2 linked regions of the Homo sapiens genome follow. The protein of the gene in region 2 purifies or fractionates together with the protein of the main gene of each other region. This does not show direct contact. Each region holds a gene or a part of one and is shown on either strand. Other genes may lie near its edges.

Region 1 (3,827 bases), on a different chromosome or scaffold from region 2:
CAGATTGTGCCACTGCACTCCAGCCTGGGTGACAGAGCAGAGCAGAGCAAGACTGTCTCAAAAAAAAAGATATCATAGGTCTAGTTTTTAAACTGCTGTCACAGGACAAGAGAAACTGAACAAAAACTGAATGAGGCTGGGTGCGGTAACTCACGCCTGTAATCCTAGCACTTTGGGAGGCCAAGGCAGGTGGATCACTTGAGGTCAGGAGTTCGAGACCAGCCTGGTCAACATAGTGAAATCCCGTCTGTACTAACAATACAAAAATTAGTCGGGCACAGTGGCGCACACCTGTAATCCCAGCTACTCAGGAGACTGAGGCAGGAGACTCACTTGAACCTGGGAGGTGGAGGTTGCAGTGAGCCAAGACTGCGCCACTGCACTCCAGCCTGGGCGACAGAGCAAGACTCTGTTTCCAAAAAAAAAAAAAAAGCTGAATGAAACAAATCCTAGGCCCTAGTTTTCTAGTCCAGAAATTTATGCTAATGCTATACACATAAGCATGGTAGCCTTTGGTGGTTCTTAAAAGGGCTTTTTGCTAGTTCTTATCAGGTACACTCCTTTTACCCTGGTCTCCCTTCTCTTTGTGCTGTATACTGTCCAGGGATGGCAAATTTCCATTCTATTAAGCCATTAATAAGACTGTTCAGGAGATGGACAAGCCATTATAGTTCCTGCTCCCACTTTCTTCAAGGAAAAAAAGAACTAGTTACTTTCTAGACCACAGGGAAGTACCTGTGTGTCTTCAGATATATGATCCTAACTGTTTATATAAGTAACATAAAATTCAAGCAATAAAACATCTTGATTTGCAAATTGACAAAAGATAAACTACACTTGGGAGTAAGTAGAGGCAATACATCAGTAATTTGAATAATCTTCTATTTCATGTAACTAAATATAGCCACCAAGAACTCCTTAATCCACTGCTTAGATACTGAGCTATATCATTCATCTACAGAGAGGAAAACTTAGGGACCATGGCAATTATTTCAAGTCATCCATGAAGAAGTGTTCTTATCTGAAAACATAACGTACTTTTTTTTTTTTTTTTTTTTTTTTTAAGACGGAGTTTCGCTCTTGTTGCCCAGGCTGGAGTGCAATGGCGCAATGTCGGCTCACTGCAAACTCCACCTCCCAGGTTCGAGCGATTCTCCTGACTCAGCCTCTCAAGTAGTTGGGATTACAGGCACGTGCCACCACACCCAGCTAATTTCTGTATTTTCAGTATAGATGGAGTTTCTCCATGTTGGTCAGGCTGGTCTCAAACTCCCAACCTCAGGTGATCTGTCCACTTTGGCCTCCCAAAGTGCTGGGATTACAGGTGTGAGTCACTGCTCCTGGCACATATTGTATTTTTAATCTGAATATTTTTATCTCAGAGTAACAGAGACCTAACACTCTGATAATTAAAAAAAAATTAATATTAACCAAATTATTCACATACGTTTTCCAGGTAGAATGGCTTAAAGGAAAAGATAAATCTAGTAATAGTCAGTGAAAAGAATGTATGTTAACAGTAGCAAACATAAAATATGACTTCTTACCCAACCATTTGTAGAAGAAATAAAGTAAGACCATCATAACACAGCAGATGACCACAAATATTACAACTGTAAGAGGACTAAAAGTTAAATATTCTTCCTTCTTTTTCCTCATTTCTCTATCTTCAGTTGTCACTGCTTTCAAGTTTTCCCTGTACAAACACACAGGAACTTTAGCAAATCTTAGCCAAGTACAGTTATTTAAAAAATTTATCTCTAACACCAATTTAAATCTGTTTCTGAAGAAAACAATGTATTTTTATTTATTAAAATATTTTTATTTTATTATTTTTCTAAGCTATCTTGTTATAGCAAGTAATGTACTTTTTAAAAACTGTACCCTACAAAGAAATATTTAATCTAGAAAGTAAAAACCTCTTAAATGCTACTCTCCAGAGATGATCTGTTTTCAACCACTAACTTTTGAAACATTTTTTTCTGCAGGCAAAATTGTTGAAAGAGATGACGTTGGCCGAGCATGATGGCTCATGCCTGTAATCCCAGCACTTTGGGAGGCTGAGGCGGGCGGATCATGAGGTCAGGAGTTCGAGACCAGCCTAACCAACATGGTGAAACTCTGTCTCTACTAAAAATACAAAAATTAGCCGGGTGTGGTGGTGTGTGCCTGTAATCTCAGCTACTTGGGAGGCTGAGGCGGGAGGATTGCTTGAACCCGGGAGGCGGAGGTTGTGGTGACCTGAGATCGTGCCATTGCACTCCAGCCTGGGCAACAAGAGCGAAACTCCGTCTCAAAAAAAAAAAAAAAAAAGAAAAAAAAAAGAGATGACATCTATTATATAAACAAATTAATACTTGTGGATGTTTATATTACCTAATTTGAAAATTATATTGACATAATAAATTTCAAACTAAAACCAATGCTTCTTACAAACTTACTATTATCAACTTACAGATAGTAAAGTACTTCTAAAAATTAGCTTCTCTGTTTTTTGAGACAGAGTCTTGCTCTGTTGCCGAGGCTGGAGTGCAGTGGCGCGATCTCTGCTCACTGAAACCTCTGCCTCCCAGGTTCAAGCAATTCTCCTGCCTCAGCCTCCCAAGTAGCTGGGACTACAGGCACATGCGGTTAGGCCCGGCTAATTTTTTGTATTTTAGTAGAGACGGGGTTTCACCATGTTGCCCTGGCTGGTCTCGAACTGAGCTCAGGCAAACCACCCACCTCAGCCTCCCAAAATGCTGGGATTACAGGTGTGAGCCACCGCACCCAGCCGCTTCTCTTAAATGTAAACGCTAAATTCTCCTCTCAATCAACTTAGCATTTACTATATGCCTAGTCTATGCTCATCAATGTATTATAAAGGACTCAAAAGAAATTCAAGGCATAACTTTGTCCTACCTTTATTTAAGATAACGAAATATTGTATCAACCCTTGCTAGGCCACAGAGCTAATAATAGAGACAGAAGTCGAGGAGGAAAAGAACTGCAACTGTTGTTTGTTGGGCAATCTCTCTTGTCGACCTTACTACTGTCTCCTCCTAGTTATATGCAACCTATGACACATTATTAATACTACTTCTGAATACTTTTCAACAACTCTGTTCTAAACTCTGCTCCCTCCTGGGCAAATCCTGGCCCTGCTTGTTAGGTCTGGGCTCAATATAAAATTTAGGTTAAAAAAGTTTATTTATTTTAATATATTTTTAAAAATTAATTTTAAAAATAAAAAAAAAAAAAAGAGTAGATTGCCTGGGAAAAGAGGAGGGAGAGAGTTGATGGAGACATGCTAGCACCTCCCCCTGAAACTCCAGAGCTGAATGACAGGGTATTAAATAAATTTCTACAAATGTGGTACCTGAGTGTAAAAAGGTGCTAATTATGATATCTGTCACTACAGAAATACATTTAAAGCAATTTTTGTCATAGTATACATATGAGCCATAATAATTCAATATCTATTCATAGTCATTAAACTAAAAAGCACAGGCAATTTCTTGAAGGAAAGCATACAGTGTACTAGATTTATATCACATTAAAATATTACAATTCTGCTGGGTGTGGTGGCTCACACTTGTGATCCCAGAACTTTAGGAGGCTGAGGTGGGCGGATCACTTGAGGTCAGGAGTTGATACCAGCCTGGCCAACATGATGAAAGTCCATCTCTACTAAAAATACAAAAATTAGCCAGGCATGGTGGCACGTGCCTGTAATCCCAGCTACTTGAGAGGCTGAGGCAGCAGAATCGCTTGAACCTGGGAGGCAGAGGTTGCAGTGAGCGAAGACCGCATGCCACCGCACTCCAGCCTGGGTGACAGTGAGACTC
Region 2 (3,827 bases):
AATGCTGAAGTCATTTTAGTCACAGTGTGATGATCCAAAAGTGATGAGATACAAAATTTGACAGGTGCAATCACTCTCATTTCTCCAGGCTCCCAAAATAAAAGCAAGAGCTGGTATAATCGAAATATCGTCTCCAAAATCTTTAGGAAATTTTACGACTTATTAAAGCTAAATTTTCAGAGAAAAAATTACCCACTGGTTATTTTTGCAAATAAAATGCATCATCAAATACCCTTAATAAGAATACATTTAAGCTTTCCATCTAAATAGTGTTTCTTGTTGAGAATTAAAACTTTCTTCCTTTTTAGCCCCTCTTCTTTTCTGCAATTCAACTTTTTCTTGTATTTAAAGTATTCATCATTTATTGAATTTAGTACTGGATGTTGATTCACCATTCTTATTGCTAAAGGAAGCCTGATTGATAATATACTCAAGATGAGTTTGTGCTGAATTTAAAAATTATTTATTGCTATGATCAATTTTATTCAAATTTCATTGCATTTGATGAATTCCTTAAGGAAAATAAACAATGGGCCAAAGTGTAAAAATTAAATAACATACATAGACTAGAAATATTATCTGAAAACAGGTGACAAAAATCTAATGCTGCTTCCTATTAAATAATAATTTTCAACTCATTTTATATCAAGCTATAAAGTTTTTTAAACATCTAATTCAAGATTATATAATACTAGTTTCAGTGAAGATTCGTTTTCCTATAACTTCTTCTGCATTCTCTTAGTATGACTAAAGGCTCAGTGTAACAGAATTGATATAAAAGTATCTCAAACAATTACTGTTGATACCTAATGTGAATGGTTAAAAAAGTTTTGATTCTTATGACTTTGTACCAAAATAAAGCTTCTGATATATCTTTAGGATTGTATTTGATGATCAGTTAACGATACAAGCAAAAAATACTTGAACTAAGTTAACATTTACATATAAAAATAGAGAATATATACAACTATAGTGATCTTGATGATATCTTCAAGTATGGTATACTAACAAACTAGAGTATCACCAGCCTGAGTAAACAGTTCATGTTTTAAAGTCTAAATTGTTTTTAAAGTCAGAAGACAATTCTATTCTTAATAATTTTCATTTTCCCCACTAACTGAGAGATTCTTTATCTTGGTTAATAACTTGAAAAATATGGAATAATTAGAAGTTATTTGTCTGAAAGAAGCCTGGAGTGTCTCAATATTTAGAAGGGAGTTTATGGATTTTTTCTAAGCATGAATCCCTTTATGTTATGATTCTTGTATATATTTATTGTTGTTTTAGTTTTTAAGAGTTGGGATCTCCCTCTGTAACTCAGGCTGGTGTGCAGTGGCACAGTCATAGCTTACCACAGCCTGAAACTTTTGTGCTCGAGGGATCCTCCTGCTTCAGCCTCCTCAGTAGCTGGGACTACAGGTACACGCCACATCAGGCTAATTTTTTTTTAAATTTTTATGTTTTATAGAGTCGAGGTCTCACTATGCTGCCCAGGCTGGTCTCAAGCTCCTGGCCTCTCAAGTGATCCTCCCAACTTATCCTCCAGAGTAGCTGGGATTATAAGCACAGACCACCACACCTAGCTGATTCTTTTATTCTGCTCATAATAAATAAAAGGCTGTGATAAGAAAAGCCACAGGGCTGGAAAGAGTCCACAAATCCTCCGTTTTCTGAGGTGTCTATTTTCTGCCATTCAGGAATGTGGTGCCTACAAAACTCAGGAAAGGAAGGTAATAATTAAAAAAGCTCAAGCCACAAATAGTATAGCTAGACACACATCTTACTAGCCAGGAGTTTCACCAGCAAGCGGTCTCTATTCTGTTTTAAAAGAACATAGCTTCTTTCTCTTGCTGAGGTTTATATGGCCACAGTGTAGGCTTCTTGGAGTTCCCTGATTTTCTGCTCAGGTCACATATACTATTAAAAATCACACATTCATTTTCAAAGTATTAAAATATAATCAAATAGATTCAACACTAAAATTAAGCTGAACATAATTTATTCTTTTTCTTGGACATGATGTGAGAAATAAAACATCCTGGCCTGGGAGTCAGAAGATTAGGTTTTCTTGATCTCAAGGCTGAGTGGTCTCGACCAAGTTACTTAACCTTTCTAGGCCTCCTTTTCCTCTGACGAAAAACAAGGGAGTTGCACTGGATAAGTTTTAAAGTCCCTTTTCAAATTTCATTGAAACACTAAGTCATGATCTTGAACAGTGCCTCTTGACTATGAAGATCAACTACCATTAGAGTGTAAAATTAATTCTAGTGTTTGCAATTTTCTGATGCTTATATTATGTTAATGGGAGTTTTCTATACTTCCAGGAGCCAATCATTAGAATTTGGCTAATAAAAACATAACTGAGATTTTTTTTTTTTACACTGTACATAAAGTTTACTTTGGCATTCACAGGGATGATCTGGAGAGAGCTTTTTGTTATACATGTTCTTATTTTATTCTCTTATTGTTGAAATCCTATTCTGTTCTCAAGTGAGTGGCAAAAGAGTAGCATAAAAGAGAGATAACTTGGTTAAGGTATTTCTTACTGAGATAAAAGAATAATAGAAGTATTTTTATTCTTTAATTTTTTTACATTTTAATTTTTTCAATTTTCAGAACTTAATTTTTTGAACTATTGCTAACACTTAAAAGCAAGGATTTTTCATAGGTTTACCACTACTGGTAAAGAGTTATGATTACTTCCAAAATATTAATATCGTGCCAAAGAAAACAGAGTTTGTTACCATTTTTATGTATATAGCAATGTATTTTACTAGTTATCTTGATAATTTTCAGAAATGGGACAAAAATAGAAGACTCATGATTCTGCTTTTACTATTTCAAACCAGATGTTAAGCATGTTGAATTCAAATTTAGAAAAGGACTCTGTGGAGTGCCAGCTACAACTTTGGGAGTAGGATAAATAATTTCTTCAACAGTTATATATGTACCTAATAAGAAGCCAACAACTCCAGTGAATGCTATAGAAATATTTTTCAGGACCATCCATATATTATAATGTTCCTTCGAAAATGTAAGAATTTCAACCAAAGGTGGCAGGATTAGGGCCAATGTGCTGCTGCTCACAGCTCCAACGAAGGAAATCACAATGTCTAAACGAGGAATAAGAATTGCTCCGGCACCTAGAAAATGAAAATACATTTATTTTTCTTATTTAAATGTTTGTTACTTACATGAATATTAACAGTAAGTATTTTCAATACTGAAAGTAATTACTAGAAATAATTAATGAAAGTTGAACTACTAAACTATTGCTTGTGAAAAAAATCTGCCATATTTTGTTCTAAGCTAGAGAGAGACAGAAAGACCAAAATAGTGAGTGACATGTCCTAGACTTACACTTGTCAACAGTTTCTTATGTAAACAACTTTTAATTTTTTGCTTTAAAATTCTGGGCAAAGAAGTTTTGATAGTTTATTTCCAGAGCATTTGCATTACTTTGTCTGCCCATACAGCTCAATAACGCACAAGACATAGAGTGGTGGGACATAAATAAATGAGAGAGAAGAGATAGCTATTCCTTAAAGTAGAATTCCAATTAATCAAAATAGAAGGAACAATGGAAACAGAAAAGCATTAAGCAAATACCACAATAATCACAGGATAGGAAGAGTCACTGATGAATGCTGAAATTAGTGGGCAAAAACTGGATGAGATCAGAGTTTCAAAATATCTTCCTTCAAGATACTTATTAATTATAAAAGGAGAACTAGTAGCTTTACAGTGGAGAAATAAGTCAACAGACCACCTTAGCCAAGTAAACAAAATTAACATCACCAATAAGACACTGATACTATGATGTGATA

Evidence for each region.
Region 1: the proteins of SLC36A4 (region 2) and SPPL2A fractionate together in Homo sapiens (co-fractionation; one large-scale study listed by BioGRID). This does not show direct contact.

What each region holds. Positions count from the first base shown.
Region 1 is NC_000015.10:50,738,133-50,741,959, forward strand, and holds part of SPPL2A (signal peptide peptidase-like 2A isoform 1 precursor), read right to left. Parts: intron 1,697-3,827; coding exon 1,548-1,696; intron 1-1,547. UniProt on the Homo sapiens protein: Intramembrane-cleaving aspartic protease (I-CLiP) that cleaves type II membrane signal peptides in the hydrophobic plane of the membrane. Functions in FASLG, ITM2B and TNF processing.
Region 2 is NC_000011.10:93,145,702-93,149,528, forward strand, and holds part of SLC36A4 (neutral amino acid uniporter 4), read right to left. Parts: intron 3,144-3,827; coding exon 2,836-3,143; 3' UTR 1-2,835.